Linked DNA regions of Homo sapiens: regions 1, 2, 4, 5, 6 and 7 are each linked to region 3. The links come from fine-mapping of genetic effects on gene expression. A gene starts in region 3. Each other region holds a variant in brackets. All regions are shown on one strand. Distances are between the middles of the regions.

Region 1 (4,353 bases), 280 kb after region 3:
CTAGTTCAACCATTGTGGAAGTCAGTGTGGCGATTCCTCAGGGATCTAGAACTAGAAATACCATTTGACCCAGCCATCCCATTACTGGGCATATACCCAAAGGACTGTAAATCATGCTGCTATAAAGACACATGCACACGTATGTTTATTGCGGCATTATTCACAATAGCAAAGACTTGGAACCAACCCAAATGTCCAACAATGATAGACTGGATTAAGAAAATGTGGCACATATACACCATGGAATACTATGCAGCCATAAAAATGATGAGTTCATGTCCTTTGTAAGGACATGGATGAAATTGGAAATCATCATTCTCAGTAAACTATCGCAAGGACAAAAAACCAAACACCGCATATTCTCACTCATAGGTGGGAATTGAACAATGAGATCACATGGACACAGGAAGGGGAACATCACACTCTGGGGACTGTTGTGGGGTGGGGAGAGGGGGGAGGGATAGCATTGGGAGATATACCTAATGCTAGATGACGAGTTAGTGGGTGCAGCACACCAGCATGGCACATGTATACGTATGTAACTAACCTGCACAATGTGCACATGTACCCTAAAACTTAAAGTATAATAATTAAAAAAAAAAAAAAAAAAAGCAGCTATTATAACCATGCTCCAGGTCGTAAGGGCAAGCATTCTTAAAATGAATGAAAAGTAAGAGAACCTCAGCAACGAAACAGAAGTTAAGAAAAGAAACAAGTGGAAATCTTGGGATTAAAAAATACAACTAAAATAAAAAGTGTACTTAATATGCTCAATTATAGAATGTAGATTACAGAAGAAAGAGTCTGTGAACTTGAAGACAGATGAACAGAAATCATCCAGACTAAATAACAGAGAGAAAAGATTGAAAAAATATGTCTGAAAAACTAACACTTATCTTCCAGTTGTTTTTTGAAGAAAAAAATGGTAATCCATGGCTGGGTGCGGTGGCTCATGCCTGCAATCCCAGCACTTTGGGAGGCCGAGGCAGGCGGATCACCTGACGTTGGGAGTTTGAGACCAGCCTGACCAACATGGAAAAATCCCATCTCTACTAAAAATACAAAATTAGCTGGGCATGGTGGCCCAGCTACTCAGGAGACTGAAGCAGGAGAATCACTTGAACCCGGGAGGAAGAGGTTGCAGTGAGCCGAGGTTGCGCCATTGCACTCCAGCCTAGGCAACAAGAGTGAAACTCCTTCTCAAAAAACAAAAAAGGTGATCCATGAAAAAAGTGATGGATACTCAAACAAAACAACTGAACAAATGCTTTTCCTCAAGGTGATTATGAAACTTCCAGATGCAGCAGAGCGGCATCCTTCCCATTTTGTCACAGTGACTATTAAAAACACATGTGCTCAAAGGTCAAGATTTAATAATGTTATTATTTTTTTTACTGCTTCATCATGTATGCTTAAGTGAAACTGGATTTTTTTTCTATGAGTGCATTATGATGAAGAATACAATAATTACTAGTATAGTTAGGTGCTAGTGCTTTTATTTCTACTACAGTGCCATCAGTTTTATTCACCATTGCTTTTGCAACCACTGAAAATATCATCAAGGTAAAAAAGTAAGAGAAACTTTTTTTTATAATTATAAATATTGTTTTGACCTCACAGAAAGGGACTTGAAGACTTTCAGGGGTCTGCATACCATTTGTGTTAGTTTTCTATTGCTGCCATAACAAATTACCCCAAACATAGTGGTTTAAACAATACAAATTTGTAATCTTACATTTATATAGGTCAGAAATCTGACATGAGTCTCAATGGACTAAAGTCAAGGTATGGGCAGAGATGTATTCCTTTTAGTAGGCACTGGGTAGCAATTGTTTCCTTGCCTTTTCCAGTTTCTGGTGGCCACCCACATTTCTTGGCTTATGGCCCCTTCCTCCGTCTTCTAAGCTTTCTCATATAGCAACGCCCTGACTCTGCTTCTGTCACCACTTCTCTTTCTCTGACTCCCTCTTATGCCCCTCTTGTCCACTTTCAAGTCCTCTTGTGATTGCACTGGGCCAAGCTCGATCATCTTTCTGTCTTACGGTCAGCTGATTAGCGACCTTAATTCTATCTTCAACCTTACTTCTCCTTTGCTGTATAACTAAAATATTCACGGATTCCATGGATTAAGACATGGACATCTTTAGGGGCCATTATTCTTTTTGCCACAACTTGATTTCAAAATAACTGCAGCAAGAAACAAGAACATTCAGAACTTTTGGATTTCTGAACACTGATTCACAGCTTACTCCAATTCCCAGAGACCCAGAATGATACTGCACTATATGTATCTTTCTCCATGGGTCAGGCTAGAGTGCAGTGGTGTGATCATAGGTCACTGCAGTTGCAAATTCCTCGGAGCTGCTTCTTCTGTTTTTTGAAATAATTTTAGAGGGTTGGTGTTACTTTTGTTTTTACTCTTTTTTTTTTTTTTTTTTTTTTTGAGACGGAGTCTTACTCTGTGGCCCAGGCTGGAGTGCAGTGGCGCGATCTCGGCTCACTGCAAGC[T/A]CAGTCTCCCGGGTTCACGCCATTCTCCTGCCTCAGCCTTCCGAGTAGCTGGGACTACAGGCGCTGGCCACGCCCGGCTAAATTTTTTTTCTTTGTATTTTTAGTAGAGACGGGGTTTCACCGTGTTAGCCAGGATGGTCTCGATCTCCTGACCTCGTGATCCACCTGCCTTGGCCTCCCAAAGAGATTACAGGCGTGAGCTGCCGCGCCTGGGTGGTGTTAAACATTTTCTTAAATGTTTAGTAGAATTCACTAGTGAAGCCACTTGGTCCTGGGATTTTCTTTTTCTGCAGGTTTTTGATTTTTAGTTCAATATCTTTGTTACTTACAGGTTGGTATAGATTTTCTGTTTCTTCTTGAGTCAGATTTGGTAGTTTGTGTAGTTTCCAAACTGGAAAGGAAGAAGAAAAATTATCTCATTAGGTAGATGACATGATGTTATGTAAAAAAATTCTAAACAAGTGACCAGAAAAAAAAAAAGAAAAGAAAAACAAACTATTAGAGGTAATAAATGAATTCAGCAAAGTTATAGGATCTAAGATTGATGTACAAGAACCAGTGATGTTCCTGTAAATTAGTAGTGAACATTCTGAATAGAATAAAGAAAACAATTTCATTTATATAGTATCAAAAAGAATAAAATACTTAGGAATAAATTTGTCCTAGGAATTGTAAGACTTGTGTGCTAAAAACTATAAAATTTTTGAAATTAAAGACCTAACTAAATGGAAAGATATTCCATGTTCAAGCGCTGGAAGACTTAAGATACTCCCCCAAAGTGATACTCCCCAAAGTGACCTACAGATTCAATGCAATCCATATCAAAATCCTAATGGATTTTTTTCATATGAAATTATAAAGGACACCAAATAGCCAAAACAATCTTGGAAAAGAAGAGCAAATTTGGAAGACTCACACTTCTCGATTTCAATATGTACTATAGAGCTACAGTAATCAAAACAGTGTGGTACTAGCATAAAGATAGACATATAGGACAATGGAATAGAATTGAGAGTCTAGAAGTAAATCCATACATCTGTTGTCTATTGGTTTTTGACAATGGCACCCAGAACATTCAATGGGGGAAAGAATAGTCTCTTCAACAAATAATGTTGGAAATGCAGGATATCCACGTGCAAAAGAATGAAGTTGCACCCTTACCTCATATTATATATACATATATATAATTCACATTATATGTAAAATTCACATTATATATAAAATGCACATTATAGATATAATTCACTATATATAGTGAATTATATATGATATATTTATTATAACATATATAAATATTATCTAATATTTAAATTAAAATATATTTAAAATAAAATAAATATCAATTAACAATAAATTAAAATATATAATATACATTATATATAATGTACATAATAAATATAAAATTATATTATATAAATAAATATATAATTATTATATAACATATAACAAAATAATATATACTATCATATATAATTATATATTATATATGTAAATATATATATTATATATATAATTAACTAAAAATAGATCAAGGACCCAAATGTAAAAGCTAAAACTCTTGGAAGAAACAGAGGGGTAAATATTTATGACTTTGGCTACAATAATGGTTTCTTAGATATAACAGCCAAAGCCCAAGTAACAAAAGAGAAAATAGATAAATTGGACTTGATCAAAATAAAAGACTTGTAACATCAAAGGATACTATTAAGAAAGTGAAAAGGAAACTCACAGAATGGGAGAAAATGTTTGCTAACCATAAATCTAGGTCCTGGATTTATGCTAATCATAAATTAGATTCTAGTATATAGAATATGTAAAAGCCCCATAACAAAAAGAGAAACAATC
Region 2 (4,000 bases), 20 kb after region 3:
ATCCTTTTGAATTTCACTGAGAAACTTGAAACAGTATGAACACATCTTTTAAAATATCTTCTCTTCCCTGTAGAAATTCCACTGGAGACTGCCATGCTAAGGAATTTATACTCAATCCTTAAAGAAGTAACATGATTGGTTCTGCTTTTTAGAAACATCACTTAGGCCTTGGTAGGAGAATAGTTCCTAGGGACGCTATGCTAGAAACAAGAAGTCCACTTAGGAGGCTCTTACAATAATTCAAATGAAAATTTTGATGCATCGACAAAGATTGGAAGTCAGAGTCAGCTTTTTTTTTTTTTTTTGAGATGGAGTTTCGCTCTTGTTGTCCAGGCTGGAGTGCAATGGTGCGATCTCAGCTCACCGCAACCTCTGCCTCCCAGGTTCAAGCTATTCTCCTGCCTCAGCTTCCCGAGTAGCTAGGATTACAGGCATGTGCCACCACGCCTGGCTAATTTTGTATTTTTAGTAGAGATGGGGTTTCTCCGTGTTGGTCAGGCTGGTCTCGAACTCCCGACCTCCGGTGATCCACCCACCTCAGCCCCCCAAAGTGCTGGGATTACAGGCGTGAGCCACCGCGCCTGGCCCAGAGTCGGATTTTAAGGCTGTTTGGTTAAAAAAGAGGAAGAAAACCAGATGATTGGACATGGATCATAAGACAAAGGAAAGCTTCTCCTTTGAGCCATGTTTCAGGTTTGGATAACTGAGTGGTATCATTCTCTTATAATAGTGGATAGAAAAGAAATAAGTAAGAAGCAAGGAAAAAAGTATATTCCCTTTTGAACACACTATTTATGAGGGACCTACAGGACATCCAAGTGTGAGGACATCTATAGGTTGTTGGAAATACTGATTTGGAACTCAGGAGAAAAAAAATGGGCTAACATTAATAGATAGAATTAATAGATTAATTAATAATCTGCATAAAGGAGGTCATAAGAGTGAAAGAGATCATCCTATGATAGTCTATAGTCTTAGAAGGAAAAAGGACCAAGGAGGGCTCTCTTGCAATAGTTTTTTCTGGAATCATGAAGGAATGGAAAAAGCCTGTGGCCGTCACTATTTGTACAGAGATTCATGTAAATCCAACTGGGGTTTTTCCTCGATTGAAAATGCACAGTGGCACATATTCTGGTCTTCATAATACATTTAGAGTATAAGGGAGCTTTCTGAAAAGCTAGTTTCTATGAACCACTATAATCTGTAGTGTCATCCTGAAAGTGCTTTTCAGAATGCTTCCTAGCTCCTCTGTGATTAGGAAGCGTGTAGTCTGGTGCTTTGGACTAAATCAAAGGATAAAGGGGGCCTGGTGCAGTGGCTCATGCCTGTAATCCGAGCACTTTAGAAGGCTGAGGCAGGAGGATCACTTGAGCCCAGGAGTTCAAGATCAGCCTGGGCACTTTAGGAGGCCAAGGCAGAAGGATCACTTGAGCCTAGGAGTTCGAGATCAGCCTGGGCAATATAGTGAGACCCTGTCTCTGTGAAAATTTAAAAAATATAAGGCCAGATGTAGTGGTATGCACCTGTGGTCCCAGCTACTTAGGAGGCTGAGGTGGGAGGATCACGAGCTTAAGAGGTCAAGGTTGCAGTGAGCCATGTTCGTGCTACTGCACTCCAGCCTGGGCAACAGAGTGAGACCATGTCTCAAAAAAATATAAACATTTAAAAAATCAAAAAAGGATAAGGGGGCAGTTACTAGGAGGGCTGTCTGTGATGTGGGAGTCACAGAGCTGAGACAAAATAATAGTCTGAAGAATGACTGTACCAAGAGATGGCATACACTGCATTGCAAGGAAGAGAAGCCCAGAAACAAAGAACCAAGGAAGTCAAATGGATCGGTTGTGAAACCAGCTGGTGGAACTATGAACCAAATAAATGCAGAAGGGACCTGCTGGG[T/G]GGTCAGAAGCAAGCTGAAGCTGAGTTGTAGGATGGTCCGGGGACTGATTTCACCTATGGGATCTGTTGGCCCATTATGGTATTCCTTTTATATGTGGCTCAGCACCTAAGAGAGTGTTCCTAGGGAACCTAGGCATACGAGACCAGGAAAGTAGTGTTGGTCCATGCTTGTGACTTATTCATGGTTTCCTTTTTTTTTTTTTTTCTACTTAGGGCTGCAAAGTTGTTGGAGCAGTAGGGTCTGATGAAAAGGTTGCCTACCTTCAAAAGCTTGGATTTGATGTCGTCTTTAACTACAAGACGGTAGAGTCTTTGGAAGAAACCTTGAAGAAAGCGTCTCCTGATGGTTATGATTGTTATTTTGATAATGTAAGTACAAACTGGACTTAATATCTAATTTATTATGGAAGTACTATATAAAGCAGGAGTCTCCTACCCCTGGGCCATGGATGGTTAGTGGTCCATAGCCTATCAGGAACTGGGATGCACAGCAGGAGGTGAGGGGCAGGTGAGCAAGCAAAGCTTCATCTGTATTTACAGCCCTTCCCCATTGCTCCCATTACTGCCTGAGCTCCGCCTCTTCTCAGAACAGTGGCAGCATTAGATTCCCATAGAAGTGTAAACCCTGTTGTGAACTATGCATGTGAGGGATCTAGGTTGTGCGTTCCTTATGGAGATCGCACTACTCAGGTGCCTGATGATGCCTGATGCCTAATGATCTGTCACTGTCTCCCATCACCCCCAGATGGGACCGTCTAGTTGCAGGAAAACTCACCCACTGATTCTATGGTTATGGTGAGTTGTATAATTATTTCATTGTATATTACATTGCAATAATAATAGAAATAAAGTGCACAATAAACACAATGTACTTGAATCATCCTTGAAACCATCCCCCCAACAATCGATGGAAAAATTGTCTTCCAATGAAACTGCTCCCTGGTGCCAAAAAGGTTGAGGACCGCTGATACAAGGGAATATATTCCTAGAGTTTCCATTTTGGGGTACATGAAGAAAGTATATATGCCTTTTTTAAAAAACAGCTTTATTGAGATATCATTCATGTACCATGTAATTCACTCATTTAACGTGTAGAAGTCAATGTTTTTTACTATATTGGCAAAATTGTACAACCAGTTTAAGAATATTTTCATCACCCCCCCCAAAAAACGCTACTCATTAGCAGTCACTCTCCATTACCACCCTCCTCCCCACTAAAAGTGGTCTCTTATGACTGGCATCTTTCACTTAGCAAAATGTTTTCAAGTTTCATCCATATCATAGAATTTATCAGTGCTTTATTCCTTTTTTTTGTTTTTTGAGACAGGATCTCACTCTGTCACCTAGGCTGGAGTGCAGTGGTGTGATCGTGGCTCACTGCAGCCTCGACCTCCCTCGCTCAAGCAATCCTTCCACCTCAGCCTCCCAAGTAGCTGGGACTATAGGGATGTGCCACCACACGCAACTAATTTTTATATTTTTAGTAGAGATGGGGTTTCGCCATGTTGCCCAGGCTGGTCTGGAACTCCTGGGCTCAAGCAAACCTCCCAACTCGGCCTCCCAAAGTGCTAGGATTACAGGCGTGAGCCACCACACCCAGCCTGATGGGTATTAGCTTATACTTTCTGGCTATGAAGTATAATGTTACTATGAACATTCATGCAGAGGTTTTTGTGTGGATTTTTCATTTCTTTTAAGTATATACCTATGAGTAGAATTGCTGGGTCATATGATAATTTCATGTTTAACATTTTGAGGAGCTGTCAAACTGTTTTGCAAAGTGGCTACAGTACTTTACATTCCCACAAGCAGTGTATGAGGGTTCCAACTTCTCTACATACTCACCAACACGTGCTATTGTCTGTCTTTTTTATTATAACCATCCTAGTAGGTTTGAAGTGATATTTCATTCTGATTTGAGTTTGACTTGCATTTCCCTATGGCTAACAATATTAAGGATCTTTCAACGTATGTATTTGCCATTTGTATATCTTCTTTGGAGAAATATCTGTTCAAAATCTTTGCCCATTTTTGAACTAGGTTATTTGTGAGGTTGTAAGATTTTTTTTTTTTTGAGACAGTTTTTTGCTCTGTCATCCAGGCT
Region 3 (4,301 bases):
CTAATATCCAAAAGAAACAGTGATTCTGTAACAAGTTATCTTAAAAGAAAAAAAAAAGAGAGAAGCAGAATGCGATATGTAACCCAATACCGTTTCTATAAATTAAATGTATATGACCACAGTGCACATTATGTAAGAACATGGAAAAAAAAACTGTATGCAAATCAAATACATCACAGTAGTTACCTATAGTAGGAGGAGAAAAGCAGGAAATTGAGTTTTTTTGGTTTTCTTTTGAGACGGGATCTCACTTAGACACCCAGTCTAGAGTGCAGTGCCACGATCGCAGCTCGCTGCAGCCTCCACCTCCCAGGTTAAAGCTATGTTGCCCACGCAAGTCTTGAATGCTTGGCCTCAAGTGGTCCTTTTGTCTCAGACTCCAAAAGTGCTAGGATTACAGGCATGAGCCACAGCACCCAGCCTGGGAATGGAGTTTTGTTTTATATTAAGTTACATAAATTAATGAGAAGGGAGAGAGTGAGAAAGAAAGAATTTGGCAGACCAGTGGGGATAAAGTGCCACCAACTCTGATTAGTGTGAAGAATTCAACTCTCGGCATTGTGTTTTTAGGGTCCATCCAAGTTGCTTTATGTACATGGAACCCAGTGCTTCTGATGCTGTGTATATCCTGTGGCATGCGTCCACCACGCTTGGTCCACACACTCTGTTATGGGCTGAACTGTGTCTTCCCCAATTTCATGTGTTAAAATCCCCAAGTCCCAGTACTCAGAATGTAACTGTATTTGTAGATAGGGCCTTTAAAGAGGTAATTAAGGTTACATGAGGCCATATTAGTGAGCCCTAATCCATTTGACAGTATTTGAAGACAAGGCCTTCAAAGACGTGTTTAAGTTAAACGGAGGCTGACAAGTGGGGCTCTAATCCAATATGGCGGGTATCCTTACAAGGAGAGACATTGAGCCAGGTGTGGTGGTGGGCCTGTAATCCCAGCTTCTAGGGAGGCTGAAGGAGGATCACCTGAGTCCAGGAGTTCAAGGCTGCAATGAGCTATGATGCCCACCATTGCACTCCAGCCTGGGTGACAGAGCAAGACCTCAAAATAATTAAAATTAAATAAATAAATTAAAGACATTGAATCTTCACAATGACTGGAAGTTAGGCATTCTTCTTATCCCCATCTTGCAGATGGCTGAACTGAGTGAGGCAAGGAGAAGGTAAGTAAGTCTTTGAAAGCTACACCACTAGTAAGTGGCAGGTGCAGGCTTCGAACCTGCAGTCGTCTAATACCAACGACTTAGCTTCACGTTCAACCCCTGCCTGAGACCACCTCTCCTTGCAGAAGCCAGGTCAAGGCCTGATGTTTGCTAGGGTGTGATGGGTGGGGTGCCTCAGTGGCAAGAGTGCTCACTCCTGCCTGGGGGAGTCTGGCAAGGGTTCACAGAGGTGACCTTGAATTGGCTGGTGGAAGGCGAGTAGGTGTTCAGCAGGCGGACTGGGGACAGACAGGCAGGGTGTCTGCACCGCAGCCCTGGGCGAAAGCTTGCACTGCGGGCAAGCGGCAGGGCTGACGGGGAGCCCAGGGATCGGAGCCAGCACCGGGGGCTTATTAGGGCTGCGGCCGCCCCAGGCCCTGCCTTTGGACCCTTCCGGCCTGCTTGGCAGATGCCACGGTTGGTTCCCCCACGGGGCATATTTCCGCCGGGCTCCAACTTAGGACCCCAGGCGGAGGTCCAGTGTCAGCTGGACAAAGCTCTGTTAGGAATTTTCCTATCAGGAGTCCCTAACCCCCTACACGCACACACACGGGCGCGCGGGCGCGCACGCACACACACGCACACATGCACACATACGCGCGCGCACATGCACATAGGCACACAGAGATACGCGCACACACACACACAAACGCACTCAGATTTCCCGGACCCTGGTTTTCCTCCTGTGACCCTTTCGGGGCCGGGCTCTCACCCTAAAGAAGCAGCCCCGCCCTGGGGTGGCCCCACCCTCTCTTGGGACCTGTCATAAGTCGGACCCCGGGCGCCCGGCTGCGCAGTCCCAGCCGCCTTCCCCAGGCAGTGGAACCTTCGGGCTCCTGTAAGTAGACCTCCTGCTTTCTTTCCTTCCCTTTTCTCCCTCCTCTAACCCCCTTGCTTTCTTCCTGCCAAGTTTCTAGACGCCCCAGTGGAGGAGGTTTGCTCTTAGACCTCCTCCCCTTACGTCGAAATGACCGCTGGGTCTTGCACTCGGAGGATCTTGGGAGCCGACGTCCCGACGCCTCCCGCCCCCGCAGTTCCTTGGAGAGCTTGGAGCCGCGCGCCGGAGGGAATAGGAAAGCTTGGTTACAACCCGGGACACCCGGTAGCTTCCTGCACCCGGGAGGGGGCTGGCCAGGGAACTTGCTGGACTGCACAACTGGGGGAGGGTAGAAGAAGAAAGATCGGGGTGGGGATTCGGGAATGGGCAAGCGGGCGGCGGGCGGCGGGAGGCGAGGGTGGGAGCAAAGGGCGAGCGGGCAAAGGCCGGGCGCCGCGCCAGGCCCCCTCCTCGGGCGGGCGAGACTTTCCCGGGACCTGGCCCCTCTGCGGCCAGACCCTTTCCAGGAGGGCTTCTGGACTTGTAGCGAGTTTGGAAGCCCAGCGGTTGCTTTTTTGGGGAAAGGGACAAAGATGTGTGAACTCTAAAGAAGTTGAACTCATAGAAATAACGACTAGAATGATGGTTGCCAGAGGCTGGGAGCGGGTTCGGGGGGGAATGGGGGCTTGTTGGCCAAAGGGTACGAAGTTCAGAGACGAGAGGAGTAGGTTCTGAGATCTGTTGCACAGCAGAGTGACTAGAGCCAATAATGTGTATTTCGAAATAACAGAGTAAACTGCAAATGTCTCACCGTAAAAATGATACGTAGGGCCTGGCGCGGTGGCTCACGCCTGTAATCCCAGCACTATGGAAGGTCGAGGCGGGCGAATCATTTGAGCTCAGGAGTTCTAGACCAGTCTGGCCAACATGGGGAAACCCCGTCTCTACTAAAAGTACAAAAATTAGCTGGGCGTGGTGGCGGGCGCCTGTAATCCCAGCTACTCAGGAGGCTGAGACAGGAGAACCGCTTGAACCCGGGAGACGGAGGTTGCAGTGAGCTGAGATCGCGCCATTGCACTTCAGCCTGGGCGACAGAGCGAGACTCCGTCACAAAAAAAGTCTTAATTTTAAAAAAAGAAAAGAAGGAACAACCCCGGGCTGCAGATCAGACCGCCCCCCTGGCTCCCTCGCAATGCGGGAGTGCTCCCTCCAGGTCACCGTGTCCCCTCCCGCGGCACCGGTAGGGGAGCTGGGGAGATCACTGGCAGCTCCAAATGGTTTCGTAACTGGATTGTTTGTAGCGGATGCACCCGCGGGAAGGCGCAGGTCCCAAGTGATTCGGCAGAGTTCAGTCCAAGCAGAACATCCTGAACCCCCAGCTCGGGGCAGCCTTCATCATCTTCCCTTGCTTTGGTGCAGCGTTTCAGCTCAAAATCGGTTTGGTGTGGAGTTTAAACTCAAATCCCTACTGGGCCAAAGAAAATTCGCACCCGATGGCTGAGTGCAAGTGGTTCACACCTGTAATCCCAGCACTTTGGGAGACCGAGGCGGGCGGATCGCCTAGGCAACACAGTGAGGCTCCTCTCTACAAGAAAAGAGAGAAAAAAAAGTATTTAAAAAAAAAAAAAACGCACCTGAAAATGGGGCGGAGCAGCGGCGCCCTCCGGTGGTTTTCAGGAGTTCTGAGACTGCCTTGAAATGCGTGGCTGTTTCCATCTGAAAGAGGTGCATGGACTTCTATCTATTGGGTTCTTTGTGTTTGATGCTTTTTCTTAGAATTCACTCCATGTGAGATGAGAAACGGAATGGAATATTCGCACTTCCGGTAACTGTTCAGTGCCGTAGAGAAACTCTAGCCTAGCAGTGGCTGGGAAGAATTTCTTTGTTGTTTTATATTTTTTCCTTGTCTTGAAGATTTCTTTAAACCTCAGTTTCCTCATCCGTACACTGGCAATGATACTAATGTCTATCTTATAGGGAAGTTATAAGGATAAAATGAGGTAATCTATATGAAGTGCTTAGCACAGCACCAGAAACATAGTAAATGTTAAATGAATGTGGTTGGCATGATATGATAATGATGGGATTTGAGGATATTGTAATTGTGCTGTCTGGTCTCAGTTTGACGGCTAGAGAACTGTTAGAATGCAGTCACTTCATGGCAGTTGACTACATATTTACTGTGTTCTAGGAGCTTCAGGATGGTTCGTACTAAGACATGGACCCTGAAGAAGCACTTTGTTGGCTATCCTACTAATAGTGACTTTGAG
Region 4 (4,353 bases), 450 kb after region 3:
TAGAGTCAGTTTCTGATCACAACCAAAGAATCTTCACGAATACTCTCATACTCCAGATTAGGTAAAGTAATTGAAGGTGAACCTTGTGATGTTCACAGTGTTAGCAGTATACCGAAACAACATAGCCTGTTCTGTTTTTGAGAGAATGAAGCTGTAACGCCAAATATTTAAAACGGTCAGGAGTGGAGGAGGTCACTGGAGGCTAATATAGCAATGTAATATAGTTACTGCCTAATTTATTTAGAGTTCGGCCTGAGGATGTGAGTTGATTTCTTTTTCCCTCCAGCATTTTATTATCCAAAATTTTCAAACATATGACTAAGTTGAACAAATACTATGATGACCACCCCCTATGCCCATTATCTACATTGTATTATTAAAATTTTACTATGCTTGTGTTGTCACATATCTATCCATCTAACAGTCTTTCTATCCACCTAACAGTCTTACTAGCCATCCTCTTTTTGTTTATGCAATTCAAAGAAAATTGCAGACCTTAATATACTAACGTTACTATTTTGTATCATGAGTATCATCAAGAGTTAAATATTCGTTTATAATTTTTTTCTTTTGATGTAAAATGTACATACAAAGAAATGCACGAATCTTCATGTTAATTTCCTCAGTTTTAACAAATGCATCCATTGGTGTAGCCCAAACCCCTATTAAGATATAGAACATGGCTGAGTGCAATGGCTCATGCCTGTAATCCCAGCACTTTGGGAGGCTAAGGTGGGCGGGTCACAGGGTCAGGAGATCAAGACTATCCTGGCTAACATGGTGAAACCCCGCCTCTACTAAAAATACAAAAAATTAGCCGAGTGTGGTGGCCCGTGCCTGTAGTTCCAGCTACCTGGGAGGCTGAGGCAGGAGAATCGCTTGAACCCGGGAGGCGGAGGTTGCAGTGAGCCGAGATTGCACCACTGCACTCCAGCCTGGGCAACAGAGCAAGACTCTGCTTCTAAAGAGATAAATAAATAAATTAATTAAAATAAAATAAAATAAAAATAATAAATAAGATATAGAACATGACTTTTGCCCAGAAAGTTTCTTTTGCTCTTTCCTAGACAATGTTTCTTCCTCCCCCAAGGTTAACCACTGTGATTTTTTTCCAAGGGAGCTTACTTCCTGTAATGGGGAAACAAGTGAGCCGACACGACAGCTGCCTGGGCCTCTAGTCATGGGGGTGCTGAAGCATTATTGGGATTGTAACTGATGGACAAAATCTTAATTAGCACTACTGTCAGGGAGAGTTCTGTAGGTGGCTGGAGGGTGTTTGCTTAGATAAGCACTCTGGATGGATGGAATTGTCTTCTAGGAAGCGTGCTTGAGTCATAGTTGATGGGTCTCTGGTCCAGGGACAGTGCAGAAGAGGCTGAAAATTGTGACCCTGGTCCTCCCGGTACAGCAGCACTTAGCCTCGTTTTTAAGTAAAGGTCACACACAGACCTAATAATCTCTATTTGAAGGGACACAAATGATTAGCCTACCTTTAGTATCAAATTACTGGCCCATAAAGATCCCCAGATGTCTCTGGGCATGAAGTGAAATCAAAACGTGGCAATTTTGTTCATGTCACTTTAATTACTAACAGGGAGACAACACACCAGGTCTTAACTCATCCATTTGCTACAGAAGGCTTAACTGAGAAGACTGGAAATGGGGAGGAAGAAAGGGTGGAGTTATAAATTCACAGATGGTAGACTCTGGACATTGGAAAGGGATGGGCTGGAATCTGAGGAAGACAGAATATTCTCCCCTTTCTCTGTTCCTTTTTTCCCAGGGAAGGTCCAGGAGGGTCTGTGGTTATCATGAATTGGTGAAATTTCAGATTCTGATATTTTCTCTCGCTTTCTTTGCTACTATTTTCTGCCACAGGTCACAGGATGACCAGACCACTTCACATAATTCTATTTTAAGCTTGCCCTGTATGGACAGGCAGGCTCCTTAGTTTTTTCAAAGGGTGATCTTTACCTGGAAATAAAAATGTATGCAGTTGCTCAGTATTAGGGCACTGCCCTTTTTCTTCTGGAGGTTTATCATTCATGTATCCCACAAGACTATTCTCTTTTTGGTATTCCTCCTTAAAAACATTCACATGGCTGAATCAACATGATATGTAGGTCTCGGGATTCTGAGCTCTTTAGAAACACCTGTTGGGAGGGCTGAAAATGGGACTCTGTGGCTACCTGGCTGCCACATATCCCTAATTACCTTGAGGATTTTAGTTTATGGCCCAAAAAACCGTGGGTGCAAATAAGAGACTTCATCTATATTTTCACACATAATTTTTCTTATGAAAGTAAATTCACCCTACCAAAAAAAGTAGAAAAATTCATAACCTGTCACC[G/A]TAACAACTGTCATTAGCATTTTATGTTAGCTCTCCATATGTTTTATAAATTTGACATAAGCTTATTACCTCTGTATATTTTACATTGTTTTTACATCTATTCAATCAAGAATTTTCCCAGGTTGCATCTTTAAAATCATGATTTTTCTAAGAGTTCCGAAATATGTCGCTCAGCTAACATGTGATGGGATGTTTAACTGTTTCCTATTCCTGGGCATTTTAGGTTATCTGCATTTTCTGCTGGTATAAATTGCACTGTGATGGACACTTTTTTTTCACATAACATTTCCATGTGTTGGCACTTGTGTACAAGTATGAAAGGCAACTGCTGCTAGGAGCTATTACTGTTTGCTAAGGAAGATGTAAGCCCTACCCTCAACCTACATAAGAATAATAGTGAAGAGTGCATAGTAAAGAACAATTAATGAAGGCTAAGTAATAAATAGATAGTGAAGATAGTAGAATGTCCCACTGGTGCAGTGGTGGGCTCCTCTCCATTCTATCAGGAACCCTGAGCCATGGGAGTGTGTTTTGCAGAGAACATACTATTGTCCTCATGCTTTTTAATATTGTAAATTATTAAATACTTTTAATTGCTTAGAACATTATTGGCTATTTTGCACTCATGTTGCTGCCTGTTTTGCTCATCTCTTCAAGTTTTTATGTGATTCCAAAACTTTTATACTGTGTTAATGGTTTAAATAACATGTTTTTCCTTATCACTATTAATCAGTGTTATTCCTATTAATATATTTTTGTTTATTATTCCAAAGTTTTAAGGCATTTTTGTTAACCCATATTTACTTTTACTTTTTTCATGCTTTCCTCTATATTTTTTATTAATTTAAAATGTTCCCATTAAGTAGAATTAGAAGAGTTACACAAATATTTTGTGGCTCTCTGTATATATTACTATGTAGAAAGTTGCCACATTTGTTGTAGCTTCATCTATATTTAGCATTTTCAAAAAAGAAGTTATTAATATCATGCATTTAGAAATAGAGCTTTAAAACAGTAATCGTAGGCGGTGCAGCAGGAAGACACAAAAGCATCTGGAAAAGTAGATTCTGTCTCCTTGAGTGCCTGTGACAAGAATTTATTGGTTTGTAATCCAAAGGTTCCTGGCCTCTACAGTTGTCAGAAGTAGCACTTCCCTTTAACTCTAAATGAAAGGATCCATGCCCTCATTATGTCTGACCACAGTCCCAAGGTCTCTGAGACTCCCTGGAGAATATACCCATGTCACCAGGTCAGTCCTGGTTTTTACTGTGTGCTTCGGCCAGCAGCCCCACTCTGGCCTGCATCTCTGATCTTTGGATAACAATGTATTATTTCTTCACTGGCTTCCTTAGGCCATGATTACTCTCCCTATACAATTTCATTCCAAATATGCACATGGGCCTATCAATTAATACTCAGAGCTCAGCTAAGATCAGGCTATAACAATTAAACGAACTCTACTAACAATACAAGAGAACAAAAGGAGATTTGCCATATAAAAGAAAATCCTGGATACTAAATATGAACATTTCCAGAGTTCACAAGCCAAAACCGATTCCTCATTCCTAGGATCCTCCAGAGAATCTATCTTTTTACTCTCTGTTTGCAAGTTGCAGGAACTGGTTCACATCTCCTAATAGTGGGTCTTTGACCTTGCACCCTTCAAGGGAGTCCAGGCCCCTCTGTTCTTCCAGGACCCAGCCAAGGGAAAGATCCATTGTCCCCTCACTACCTTTTAGCCCAATATCCTAACTTGAAAACAAATAAACATCCTGCAACGTCTGTTTCTATAAAAATAAAAAAGAAAACAAACAAAAATATGTAGGTAACATCAATTATCTATAACAAAGCCTCCGTAAATTTGAAAGAGTAGACACTAAAATACATAAAAAGATTGATTTTTAAGAATATATTAAGCAAAACACTTATCCTAAGGAAATTCTAAAAAATATGAAATTTCTTGATTCAAAGTACTATATTGAGTCAAGTATTCAAAATTGAAA
Region 5 (4,353 bases), 560 kb after region 3:
TATCCAGATCCATTTTTAGCTTTATAGTTGTATATATAACACACATATATTTTTTTCCTTTTCCTTGTCTTTCTTCACTCTGTTTTAGATCTAAGCCTTTTTTATTTTGGATGAGGGAGACTACAGAGAAAGGATCTGCTAGCCTTGACCTACTTCTGATGTTACCCAGAGTATTCATGCAGATGTATGTGATAAGAAAAAGGTGAACACAGAGTTACTCTGTTTGGGGCTTTCATTGCAGCCTAGTCCTTGCAGGAGGCTGCTGCATGCAAACCCAAATTCTCTCCATTCTTGGAATCTCCTTATGCCACCTGCACTCTGAAGAGTGTTATTATTATTACTTTTTACTAAATTGGGCTGCCCCACCCACCTTTGCCGCTGGACTTTTAAAATAGAAAGGTTTCCTAAGGAGAATGCTTTTTTTTCCCCCCTAGCCAAGGGGAAAAACACTGGAGAGGCACAAATACCCCATTTCAAGGAGGAAGAAAACTATGCCTGGAGGCATCATCTGCAAAACTTTCCGGAAAAGGCTGAGTTCTCTCAGGGTATTGTTTCACCAAAATACTGTCTTTGAATCAGTCTCTACCTTAATAGACTGGAGGGAAAGTTTCCAACAGATCGTTTTGCTGATAGTTTTGATTACTCTCGAACAGAAAATTTCAAAAGCTTTTTGCCAGAGGGAAGCGAACAGAGGGAGGAAGAGAGAACTCTTCCATGAGTGTGCCATGACTGGGGAACCTTTTGAACAAATAATAGTGCCAAAGGCAGTGACAGCCAATTTTTCCACCCGAAATGCTTCTCAAATTATAGTCCTTGGATCACTAGCTTATATCAATAGTCTGACAAAGTCTATGGTGTCCTTCCAGATATTAATGTAAAACCTGAACTTGAAATATCCATCACAATGTTTCATTTTGCTGAACTTTTTCTGAGACACAGTCTTGTTCTGTTGCCCAGGCTGGAGTGCAGTGGTGCAATCTTGGCTCACTGCAACCTCTCTCTCCCAAGTTCAAGAGATTCTTATGCCTCAGCCTCCCAACAGCTGGGACTACAGGCATGCACCACCATGCCGGCTAATTTTTATATTTTTAGTAGAGACAGGGTTTTAGTAGAGACAGACATGTTGGCCAGGCTGGTCTCAAACTCTTGGCCTCAAGCGATCTGCCCACCTTGGCCTCCCAAGGTGCTGGGATTACAGGTGTGAGCCACCATGCCTGGCTTCATTTTGCTGAACATACATATATATTTAAAAATTTTAAAACTTTTTAAGAGACAGGGCCTGGCTGTTGCCCAGGCTGGAGTGCAGTGGCACAATGGCAGCTCACTGCAGCTTCGAACTCCTGGGCTCAAGCGCTCCTCTCGCCTCAGCCTCCCAAAATGCTGGGATTACAAGCATGAGCCACTGTGGCTAAGAATATTTTTTGTCATGTTTGACAGCGCCAGCTGTCTTTGGGTCTTTACCTCTGCTGAAGTCATTTGAAGAAACAAATCTAAAGAAATACTGCTTGGCAGAGGGGAGGAGAGAAAGGTTAGGACAGAAAGCATCAGGATGACTCTCCAAGAAAGGGAATGTCTGAATGACAAGAGGACTACAGACAGGAGAAAACATTCAAGAAAATTTATCAAGGTATTCTTTGTTCCTGTTGAAACCTCATCATCAATGTTAGTGTCTTCAGAAGCCCACCCAAATATATTATTTTACTTTGATAAAAGACAACTTGGAACCATATAAAAGACTGCACTGGTACCATTATTCCATTTTACAGATGAGAAAAGTAGCTCATTTGGAACATAATGAGCTAGGTTTTATGGATTAATCTAGATGCTGAACTGAATTCTGTATTGTATTTCATTTTCTCTGTCCTTTTCTACTGGATGTACATACCTACATTTAATTTTAGAGTTATCGATCTAAAGCTGGCTGCAGAAGCTGTCTCATTTAGACAGGTCCACGCTTGTCAGGAAGACAGGTCTGTCCAGGCAGACCTTTCAGTTTGTTCTATATTTCATTTCAGGCCACAGCAGACCAAATAAAGAGGAAATGAAGTGTTTTATAGCAAATAACTTACTGTTGAATACACATGTCTTGTACGGACAGGCCTCCCAATTTGATGTTAGAAGGGGCCACAGAGTAGTTAAGATAGTCAAAACAGAAGCAACTGTATTCCTTAAGAAGGTAAGAGACAAAATCAACATATTAAAAATATTCAAGTTGAGTGGTAGGTAAGAAACTCCTTTTACTTTACCTTTGATTTATGGGGAAAGGCTAAACATGGAAATAATTAATTTTAAAATGT[C/A]TTTATATTAGATATAGAAGTATTGGTGTTAAGAAATCTGATAGTAAGTACAGTGTATAGGAAGAAAGAGACGGGAAAATTAGCTAATAAGTGATTTTTTGACTTGAGTAGAGCTATGGTTAAAAATATATGGAAACCTCTTTCGAGTATATTTTTTTCTTACCAATATATACTTTTTATGATACTGAGATTTTATAGTGAACATTTGCCTATTCATCCCAATATAATATTTCTTATAGTTTGGTATCAACCCCTATGATTATTTGTGAGATAAGGGAGTGGTTTGTATTCATGGGTATACATATCTATACACATTTCTGCATGCCGTACACAAACATAAGTAGCATTGTGCATGAACATATTAGCACTGTGCATGTACTAAAATTTCAATTTTTTCACATAGTAGGTTATAAAATAAATCATATATTCGTAGGAAAGGTATAGAAAGCAAAGTTATTTAAAGTGGATTTTTAAAAAAGATTTGAATGATTTTTTTTAAAAAAAAGATTAGAACCATTGTTTTTAAAAGGAAACAGCTTTAGATAGTAAATTATTTACAGCCAGGACTCAGCCCTGAGCATCCTGTGAAAACCACACGAGCTTGGTCAAGGTTCTAAGCAGTCACCGGTGGGAGATGGTCATGGTCCCGTCACAGCATAACTCACTTGAGGCTTGAAAAGTTTCCGTCCAGCTACGGTTTGCAGTGACCTTTCTCTTCTGCAAAGCCCACGGTTACCTGGTGGCCACCACCAACATAGCCCCGCCTCGCTGTCCTGCGTTTCTCTCAATCAGATCAGTCCTGCCGAGTCCCCATGCCTTACTGCTGGTGTGCTGTGTCCTCTGTGCCATTTCAAGGCGAGGGCTCATGAAACTTTTACTCACACGCTGCTATTTTTGATATGCGGTGGCCTTAGCTGTGGAGCGAGAGGCCGATAATTGTGATCACTCCGGAAATCCTGGGAAGCCAGAAGTGGGAGATGGGTGTTGTGAGGTGGCGTGGCTAGGGAGACCCCATCGAGTGGGTGTGTTATAAGACCTGGGCGAATCCCTGTGGCTGCCACTCTCCTGAGAATGTTCCCTAGGCCTTAGTCCCGCGCCGCTCCCACCCACACCTCCAGGTGTGCAGTCCCCGCCCTTAATTACTCTCACTAAAATTGATAGTTTACACTTGCAAAGCTACACTGGGAAAGCGGAAGAGAAATTTATAATCGTGGATATGGAGAACTAGGGGAGCAGACACACTTGCTTTCGTTTACAGATCCAGTGAAGTGAAAAATCAGAACTAGAAACGTATGCACCTTCCTAGCAGCAAAGCCGCTTCTGCGTTCTTCGCAGCCTCCAGTGCAGGGCGGCGCTGGGAGAAACTTTGCGCCTTCTGGAAAGTTTAGAAAGTGAGCCACGAAAGAGAGGCCACATTTCCGGGGTTTTGCGGGCCCCGCGATGTTTTCCAGAGCTTTTCGAGTGGGAAGAGGAGAGCGACAACGTGAAAATGCCCCGTGCCGGGGCGTCCACCGGAGTCCTGCCAGCTGTCCGGCGCTGGGGTAAGCGCAGGAGGGGCGGGGGTGGGACCCGAGCTGGCGGCCACGGGTCTCCCGCTGCGGGTGTGTCGACTCGGGGGCGGGGCGGGGGAGGCTGCTGAGATAATGAATGGGAGGCTAAGGCCACCCCCCAGCCCCGGCCCTGCCACCACCGTGGGCTGTCGAGCCAATGAATGGAGGAGGGGGCGCAGAGGTCAGGGGCGCTGGGGGCGCCACACCAGGTAAGGGGTCCAGCTTGGGAGCGGGGAGGGCGGACTCTGGGGGTTCGGGTGTTGCTGACTTGTGCTACGTGGAACAAGCAGAAAAGAAGGAAGGCGGAGGAAGAGAGGAGGCTGGCGTCGGCGCTGCTCCTCTGGCCCTCCCTCTGCGCCCCCTCCTCCTGCCAGCGCGCCAAAGCCGGGCAGTAGGGGCCGACTGGCGGCTGACGCTCCCTGAGTGGCGACTCCGTCTCCAGCCCCGCTGCGGAGCGCGGGCCGGATCTGGGGCGGCCAGGGCCCGGAGCCGCGGAGCCCTCCCCG
Region 6 (4,353 bases), 170 kb after region 3:
TTATGAATATATGTGCTTTAGTACAGTCCCCGGCACATTGTAAGCCTAAGTAGGAGCTGCTACTGTTGTTACTGCTCATCTTTGGCTTGTGACCACACTGATATGTTAAGCAGTACTTTCAGTGGGTGTCCTTTGCTCCCCTGACTGTTCTTTCTCCTTCCCTTCATTTATCTACAGTGCAAATTGGGAATCGTGAAATTCATAGAAGCTGAACAGGTGCCTGAACTTGAAGCTGTTCTCCACTTGGTGATTGCCTCTAGTGATACACGCCACAGTGTGGCAACGGCAGCAGACCTGGAATTGAAAAGCAAACAGAGGTAACTACTTCCCTGTAAACTTTCAAGATTGAAAGGACTACATTTCTAAAAACTTACTTGACACATTTTTTGTTTAAGGATTTTTTGTAATGAGGCATTCAACTTAGAGGAGATTATTAAATATACCTAGTTTGTAATCAAGTTTGCTAAAGAGTTGAATTCTGTGTAAGACAGAGAAGAAAATCTGTGTGGAGATGCTGTTTATAGCTGCAATAGGTTAGGAATGTCATCACAATCAATGAGACTTTTGGCTAGGTAGATGAACTTAAAGAATTGATGTTAAGAAAAGTGTCAGTTCCAAGAAACTAATTTTTATTTTTTTCTGTGTCTCAAACCATTCGAGATTACTTTTAATAAAGACTATGTATGTATTATGGTTAATACAGTGAAAATTACATTCATGAAAAGAGTTGCTGAATAGATTCTAATTCACACACGAGGAGATACAGATAGGAAATAGACTTATAGAAAATATTCTGTATAAGAAATAAAGTCAATGAAAAATAAATGAATGAAGTCAATGAAAAATAAATGAATGGGATACCAGTAGCAGTGGTTAAACCCATTTACGTTTCTATTGAAACTGCGATTTTTATTTTTATTTATATATTTATTTTTTGAGACAGGGTCTCTCTCTGTTGCCCAGGCAGGAGTGCAGTGGCACGATCTCAGCTCACTGCAACCTCCACCTACCAGGTTCAAGCGATTCTCATGCCTCAGCCTCCCAAGTAGCTGGGACTACAGGTGCTGGCCACCATGCCTGCCTAATTTTTGTATTTTTGGTAGAAATGGGATTTCACCATGTTGCCCAGGCTGCTCTCGAACTCCTGAGCTCAGGTGATCCACGCAGCTTGGCCTCCCAAAGTGCTGGGATTACAGGCGTGAGCCACCACGCCTGGCCAAAACTGCTATTTTTATACCCTGTTGATTGGCATTATAAATTGAAATGAAGTTTTGGAAAGCAGTTTGCAATAAGTAATGAATCATAAAGATATTTCTATCCTTTTATCTCAATATTCTGGGAATTTATCCTAAGGAAATTATTCAAAAGCAGAAAGAGATTTAGAAAAATTTTATAGATTTGTTCATTATATCATTTTCTATCATTGTTAAAATATGAAAACAAATTCAGTTTTCCATAATGGGGATATAGTTAAGTAAATTACTGTATGTATCTTTATGGAATATTATATATTTGCCAAAATATGAATGAAGTTAATTACTACTAAGTTTTTAGTTTGTTTTACTAAAGTGTTTGTTTTGTCTGAAATCTCTAAACCACAAGTATTATGAAAGAAAAGCAACGGCGGAGCTTGAGGATTAGTTAGTAGCAATCAGCTGAGGAAAGATGTAGGTGAATCATATCTAAAACAGAATTGTAGAATGCCTCTGAGGATAGCGGAATTGTGGCTATTCTAAGAAGAAGCATATTTATAAACTATGAAAGAAGATAAATCCAAAAAGCAGTTAAAGTAGCTTCATCTGTTGTGTTTGCACAAACACAGGATAGCTTGAAAGCAGAACCAATGTCAAAGGGCAGAGAGAATATAGTATGGTAAACCAGTCAAATGAAAGGAAGGATTACATTATTGCTAGGTTTATGAAATGAGTGGGTGGGATCTGCTGCAGAGGGTGGGAACGAATCACCAATCATCTTTTTTTTTTTTTTTTTTCTGAGACAGAGTCTAGCTCTGTCACACAGGCTGGAGTGCAGTGGCACAATCTCGGCTCACTGCAATCTCCCCCTCTCGGATTCAAGTGATTCTCGTGCCTCAGCCTCCTGAGTAGCTGTGATTACAGGTGCACACCACCGTGCCCGGCTAATTTTTGTATTTTTGGTAGAGATGGGGTTTCGCCATGCTGGCCAGGCTGGCCTTGAACTCCTATCCTCAGGTGATCCACC[C/T]GCCTCGGCCTCCCAAAGTGCTGGGATTGCAGGTGTGAGCCACCATGCCCAGCTGTCACCAATCACCTTATATCTGAATTCACCTTATTGTGGGGCCCAAATAGAATTAAGTCTTAGTGACTGATAGCATAACTACTCTGCAGAATTAAAACTGCAAGTGTGTACTGGTAGATAAGGAAGGAGGGGGATGCTGGGAATCACAGTGACGTTAGAGAAATACGGTGGCTTGCAAGCTTCCTAGATGTGGCTTTAATTTCATGGGTAAAAATTTTTTTGTCACTTTCCTTATCACTTTTGAACTGCCAAATGGTTAAACAGACGAATCCTACCCTGCCCCAGGCCTCTTTGAACAAGTGTAGTAAAGCTCTGCTCTGTTGGAGTTGCTCCATGCCATTGGCCTGAGAACCCATCTATGTAGGAACAGTGTCCAGTGTTCTTGTGGTACCAAATTGTGCCATTGGATACAATAATCTGTTGAGTCTGGGTGGGATAAGTGATTTGTATTTGTTTTGGTTTAAAAACATACTTTGATAGAAATTAGTCCCTTTCTTTTCCTTCTCTTCTACAATGTCAATTGCCCATTTCATTTGTGTGTTTCTAACATTTTCTTTTGTTAAGAAATGTTGGGGCTATAATTTTTTTGAAATCACTGAAGGAGGGGGAAAAATAATTTTAACAACCTGTGTTGAAACCTTCCATAGCTTAATTGACTGGAATAATCCTGCCATCATTAATAAGATGTACAAGGTGTACCTTGGAGATATACCACTGAAGACAAAAGAGGTAGGTTGTTTTGATTTATTCTCACATCAGCGTAAAAAGTAGTTTGTTGACATGAACTGCGTATTTATACATTTTCTTCTAGTTTCATTTAAGCTGAATCTGTGCTATAACAAAATGCTAGTTTTAAGTCATGCTAGTTTAGATGAATTAAAACCTGGTAATTTAGTTTACTGGATCTTGTGTTGTAAATTCAGATTCCTAAATAACAATGACAAACTGTCTAGAGTAGGGATTGACAAATTTTTTCTGTAAATTTTGTAGGCTTTGCAGGCCTTATGGTCTCTCAGGTTGCAGCTGCTGAACTCTTGTAACATGAAAGCAACTATAGGCAATACATAACCGAATGAGCATGGTTGTGTGCCGGTAAAACATTGTGGATACTGATGTTTGAATTTTGTGTAGTTTTCATATATTACAAAATATATTCCTTTGATATTTTTTAACCATTACAAAATGTAAAAATGATGCTTAACTCATAGACCTTATCAGAATAAATGGTGGGCCAGATTCGGACTGTGGGCTATAGTTTGCAGACTTCTGGTCTAGAATCTAGAACAAAAGATAGGTCCTTCTAAAGCCTCAAAGTAAGACCTTTGCCTTACTAACGTGAGTTCTTTTTAGTTCACTGTGTTTAAAAGTATTCCAGGTCCAAACCCAGATATACAAGGATTATTTGTTTGCATGCTTGCATTCTTGCTCTTTTTTGTTTGAGTTGGGGTTTAGCTATGTTGCCTAGGCTGGACTTGAACTTCTGGGCTTAAGCTGTGCTCCTGCCTCAGTCTCTTGAGTAGCTGTGACTACAGGTGCACACCACTGCACCTGTCTGCCTTTTTGCTTTTTAAACCATAAATACTTGTTTTAAAAATCAATATTAGCCCTGGTTAGATTAGATTGAGTGTGGTAAAGCAGAAATAACAATGAATTGGGAATCAGGACCTATGAATTCTAGCCCCAAATGGCTGTACACATGAATGTGCTGGGGAGGAAAGGTTTGGCTGATCACATAACTTTTCCTGGCCTCATGTTCTTCATGTAGAAAATGAAGGGGTTGGATTAGATTAGTGGTTCTCACAGTGTGGTCCATGGACCTTTTTAGGGTCACAAAACACCTTTTAGGCAGTCTGTGAAGGCCTTTTCTTTTTGTACTGTGTCAATATTTGCACTCATGGTACAAAAGCAATGGTGAGTGTACTTGCTAGGTTCCTACCACATATCAAAGCCATGTCACCAGATGACTAACAGTTATTCTATTCTTCAGTGTTATGTACTCATTTAAAAAAAAAAAGAGAATAAAACTCAGCTTTACTTAAGAACATCCTTGATGAAGCAGTAAAAATGACTTTACTTGAA
Region 7 (4,353 bases), 78 kb after region 3:
TGAAGACAAAAGTTTTCTCAGTCCCGAGTCCCATGGCATATTCTCCTTTACCCACCTCCCCTTGGCTGGCTTTAGACGCATCAGGAAGAAGCTGGAGAAGGCAAAGGAATAGGAAATGTCTATTGGCTCATTATTTTAACCAGGCAAGTCAGAGGCACTTTACTTAGTAAAGCTTACTCAAGCTTTACTGTACTTTAGAATCACATGGTGTTCTTTATTTGAATACAGATTTTGGAACCTTCTGGCCCTCCCCACCCATCAACTTGTTGCAGGTGATCTTGTATTTTGAGAAACACAGTACTAGTTGAAATATTCTGTAAGTAAATGACATGCTACCTATGAATAAATTACCAGGAAAGAATGGCATCTTTTTGGAACTGGTAGTCAAACTATAACTTTTGATTAAAAGTAACCATCATGGTAAGGAGTGATGGACTGTGCATCAGGAAGGAAGCAGGAAACTACAAATCAGTTCCACTGGTAAGCAAGCTGGTGGGATCTCTAAACAGGAAAACATACTTAGGAGAACTTTAAGTGAGCTGTTTGTTTGTTCGTTTAACTGTTCTGGTTTCAGTATGGACAGTAGATTAGAAAGAAGTAACACCAGAGATAAAAAGACTTTGTCTTATCATAATCCAGGTAACATGATGGTGACATAAAATGAAGGTGGTTTAAAAGGTGATGGAAGGGCCGGGCTGGTGGCTCACGCCTGTAATCCCAGCACTTTGGGAGGCCGAAGTGGGCGGATCACGAAGTCAGGAGATTGAGACCATCCTGGCTAACGCGGTGAAACCCCATCTGTACTAAAAATACAAAACTTAGCCGGTCATGGTGGCGCCTGCCTGTAATCCCAGCTACTCAAGAGGCTGAGGCAGGAGAATCACTTGAACTCAGGGGGGCAGAGGTTGCAGTGAGCTGAGATTGCGCCACTGCACTCCAGCCTGGGCGACAGAGTGAGACTTCATCTCAAAAATAAAAAAAAAAAAAAGAAAGAAAGTAGAATCCTACAGTACATATTCTTCATATATTATGACTTCTTTCATTCAACATTATGTCTGTGAGATTTATCAATATTGTTGCATGTGATTATACAGTGTTTATTTTCATTGCTGCATAGTGTTCTCCTATGATTTTTTTGTGTGTATTTGTTTTTTTTTTTTTTTTTTGGAGACGGAATGTCGCCCAGGCTGGAGTGCAGTGCAGTGGTGTGATCTCAGCTCAGCTCACTGCAATCTCCACCTCCCAGGTTCAAGCAATTCTCCTGCCTTAGCCTCCTGAGTAGCTGGGATTACAGGGGCTCACCACCACACCTGGCTAATTTTTGTGTTTTTAGTAGAGATGGGGTTTTGCCATGTTGGCCAGGCTGGTCTCAAACTCCTGACCTCAGGTAATCTGCCCACCTTGGCCTCCCAAAGTGCTGGGATTACAGGGGTGAGCCACTGCTCCTGGCCTGACCTGTTATTTGTATTAACATTTCCTGTTTTCTTAGACCCTTGCCCAGCCTCTGTTCCCGTACACAGAGTTGGGGAGGAAGTATGTATGATTGTTTGTGTATCTGAAGGGGAGAGTCTGTCTAATTTTCCTGTCTTCTTTCTTTTTTTCTTTTGTTTTTTTTTTTTGAGACGGAGTCTAGCTCTGTCACCCAGGCTAGAGTGCAGTGGTGCGATTTCGGCTCACTGCAACCTCCGCCTCCCGGGTTCAAGCAGTTCTCCTGCCACAGCCTCCCAGGTAGCTGGGATTACAGGCGCCTGCCACTGCGCCCGGCTAATTTTTGTATTTTTAGTAGAGATGGAGTTTCACCATCTTGGCCAGGCTGGTCTTGAACTTCTGACCTCGTGATCCACCCGCCTCGGCCTCCCAAAGTACTGGGATTACAGGCGTAAGCCACTGCGCCCGGCTTCCCTGTCTTCTTTCTAGACTCACTCCACTTTAAAGAAACTGAAGACCCAAGGTCCTGCCCACCCCTCCCCATATCCTATTTTTTCAAAAATGAGACCCAGCGCAGGGAGGGGCTTGCCCAAGGTCACTCAACTGGTAGATTGGAAACTGACTGGCTCTGAGCCCAAGGCTTTTAGGAGAAAGGAGCACATCTTCCCCATCTCTAGAGGGAGGAGGACAGGCTGGGACTCTGATCAAGGATCTAAAACAGGTGTTTTAAAACTAGTTGTTAATTGCCAAACTGTCCAAAAGAAATATTACAGATGAAAGAGGTGCATTCCTGATTGAAGTCCTGGCTTCCCCACCTAGCAGCTTTGGAGTTATCTCCTTAAGACCCTCAGGGCTCTTGTGCATCCACTTTGGAGGCCTCTGAGCTCTAAAGGTTTGAGCTGCCTCAAGGACACCAAGTCCTTGTTTCCAGGTGCCTCCAGTCCTGGTTTAACTGGGACTCCAAAGATCCCAGAGCCACTCTAGGGGAGCTGACCCTCTCCTGAAAAGAAATAACAAAAAATTCCTCCTGCCTGGCTCTGTAGAGCCACAGAGGGTGGTATGTTCCAGAAAGAAAGAAAGAAAGAAAAAGAAATAGCAAGC[AAGTG/G]AGCTACGAAGCTCCCGTAAGGATCCACTAGAGAGAAAGGGGATGAAGACAGAGAGTGTGGGAATATGCTGTAGAGTGAAGACTGAGAAACTAGGGGGAAGCACAAGTGGAGAAATTAGCTTTAAACTGCCAGAGCCAGCATGCAGTGTTCATTGTAATAGCAGGGAAGGAGGCAAAGAAGGGGGTAGATGCAGTTGGATTTGGAACTGGTATCTAATGGATCCTGCTGAGATCCACTATTGGGACCTCCCCAGAAGGGAGATACGGGTGGGATCTGAAGCTTGATAAGAGTAGATTAGGTTTGGCCGGGCGTGCTGGCTCACACCTGTAATCCCAGCACTTTGGGAGGCCAAGGCAGGCAGATCACGAGGTCAGGAGTTCGAGACCAGCCTGGCCAACATAGTGAAACCCTGTCTCTACTAAAAATACAAAAAAAAAATTAGCCGGGCATAGTGGTACGCGCCTGTAGTCCCAGCTACTTGGGAGGCTGAGGCAGGAGAATCACTTGAACCTGGGAGGTGGAGGTTACAGTGAGCTGAAACCACGCCATTGCACTCCAGCCTGGGTGACAGAGCCGAGACTCCATCTCAAAAAAAAAAAAGAGTAGATGGCTGCTGGGAGAATATGAGTTGATCACAAAAACACAGAAGGATTTCCCTGCAGTGTTAAGGGCCCATTTGAGGTTAGAAACCCCCATTTTATGTTACATCAATATGTACATTAAATGATTTTTCTCAAGGTACACAACATAGCTCCAGAATAGGTACAGGGAAGAGGGACAGTTGAATTGATCCAGGGGATGGGGGTTGTAGCATAAGTTTGACAGGAGGACAGTGGGATAACCAGTTGAGGATATGAGCAAAAGTTTGTTTAAAATGATTTATGATGGAGTCCAATTTAGGTAAGGAAGATGAAGATAAGAGTTAGTTAACATAAAAGAAGAAAAGAGAGCTGGGCATGGCGGCATGCGCCTATAGTCCCAGCTTCTCAGGAGGCTGATGCAGGAGGATTGCCAGAGGCCAGGAGTTCGACACCAGCCTGGGCAACATAGTGAGACTCTGTCTCTTAAAAAAAGAAAGAATGAGCCAGGTGTGGTGGCTCACGCCTGTAATCTCAACACTTTGAGAGGCCGAGGTGGGTGGATCACTTGAGCCAGGAGTTTGAGACCAGCCTGGGCAACATAGCAAGACCCATCTCTATAAAAAATTTTAAAAATAGCCGGGCATGGTGGTGCATGACTGTGGTTCCATATACTCAGGAGGCTGAGGAAGGAGGATCTCTTGAGCCCAGGAAGTTGAGACTGCAGTGAGCTCTGATTGTGCCACTGCACTCCAGCCTGGATGACAGAGTGAGACCCTGTCTCTAAAACAAAAAAAGAAAAAAAAGAATGAACGAATGAAAAAGAAGAAAGTAGAGAGATTAAAGGACAAGCGAAATCAAAGCATCAAAGCTTAATAAATAACGTACTTATGGCCGGGTGCTGTGGCTCACACCTGTAATCCTAGCACTTTGGGAGGCTGAGGCAAGTGGATCACCTGAAGTCAGGAGTTCAAGACCAGCCTGGCCAACATGGCGAAACCCCATCTCTACTAAAAGTACAAAAAATTAGCCAGGTGTGGTGGCAGGCACCTGTAATCCCAGCTACTTGGGAGGCTGAGGCAGGAGAATCGCTTGAACCCGGGAGGCGGAGGTTGCAGTGAGCCGAGATCACCCCATTGCACTCCAGCCTGGGTGACAGAGCAAGACTCTGTCTCAAAATAATAATAATAATAATGATAATAATAATGTACTTATAAAGTTAAATATATACTTACTATATG

Direction of the effects. Positions count from the first base shown, and alleles are read on the strand shown. Sizes are in standard deviations (SD) of each study's normalised expression. Not every link is listed here.
In carriers of allele A in region 1, the expression in lymphoblastoid cells of the gene that starts at base 2,008 in region 3 tends to be lower than with T alone (large effect, 0.81 SD a copy in TwinsUK).

Evidence for each region.
Region 1: its variant is fine-mapped to the expression of PTGR1 in lymphoblastoid cells (TwinsUK, PIP 0.95).
Region 2: its variant is fine-mapped to the expression of PTGR1 in aorta (GTEx, PIP above 0.99).
Region 4: its variant is fine-mapped to the expression of PTGR1 in hippocampus (GTEx, PIP above 0.99).
Region 5: its variant is fine-mapped to the expression of PTGR1 in spinal cord (GTEx, PIP 0.99).
Region 6: its variant is fine-mapped to the expression of PTGR1 in fibroblasts (GTEx, PIP above 0.99). The same link has a PIP of 0.9 or more in breast and subcutaneous fat.
Region 7: its variant is fine-mapped to the expression of PTGR1 in whole blood (TOPMed, PIP above 0.99).

What each region holds. Positions count from the first base shown.
Region 1 is chr9:111,313,979-111,318,331 of GRCh38, reverse strand. No RefSeq gene overlaps it. Among named protein-coding and RNA genes, the nearest start is that of OR2K2, 14 kb to the left of the region's middle. The variant T/A (reference allele first, on the strand shown) is at 2,509.
Region 2 is chr9:111,577,061-111,581,060 of GRCh38, reverse strand. It overlaps PTGR1 (prostaglandin reductase 1), which reads left to right. Exons shown (of 10, transcript NM_001146108.2): 7 at 2,110-2,265. It also overlaps a transcript of ZNF483 not described here. Among named protein-coding and RNA genes, the nearest start is that of PTGR1, 21 kb to the left of the region's middle. The variant T/G (reference allele first, on the strand shown) is at 1,897.
Region 3 is chr9:111,597,354-111,601,654 of GRCh38, reverse strand. PTGR1 (prostaglandin reductase 1) reads left to right here and starts at 2,008. Exons shown (of 10, transcript NM_001146108.2): 1 at 2,008-2,052; 2 at 4,223-4,301. The coding sequence starts at 4,233. RefSeq lists an enhancer at 1,585-2,157.
Region 4 is chr9:111,144,030-111,148,382 of GRCh38, reverse strand. No RefSeq gene overlaps it. Among named protein-coding and RNA genes, the nearest start is that of LPAR1, 110 kb to the right of the region's middle. The variant G/A (reference allele first, on the strand shown) is at 2,351.
Region 5 is chr9:111,038,355-111,042,707 of GRCh38, reverse strand. LOC124902248 (a long non-coding RNA gene) reads right to left here. Exons shown (of 2, transcript XR_007061732.1): 2 at 1-3,253. It overlaps LPAR1 (lysophosphatidic acid receptor 1), which reads left to right and starts at 4,238. Exons shown (of 6, transcript NM_001351411.2): 1 at 4,238-4,353. The variant C/A (reference allele first, on the strand shown) is at 2,298.
Region 6 is chr9:111,429,197-111,433,549 of GRCh38, reverse strand. ECPAS (Ecm29 proteasome adaptor and scaffold) reads left to right here. Exons shown (of 50, transcript NM_001364929.1): 8 at 178-317; 9 at 2,922-3,003. Among named protein-coding and RNA genes, the nearest start is that of ECPAS, 53 kb to the left of the region's middle. The variant C/T (reference allele first, on the strand shown) is at 2,221.
Region 7 is chr9:111,519,243-111,523,595 of GRCh38, reverse strand. No RefSeq gene overlaps it. Among named protein-coding and RNA genes, the nearest start is that of ZNF483, 3.8 kb to the left of the region's middle. The variant AAGTG/G (reference allele first, on the strand shown) is at 2,530.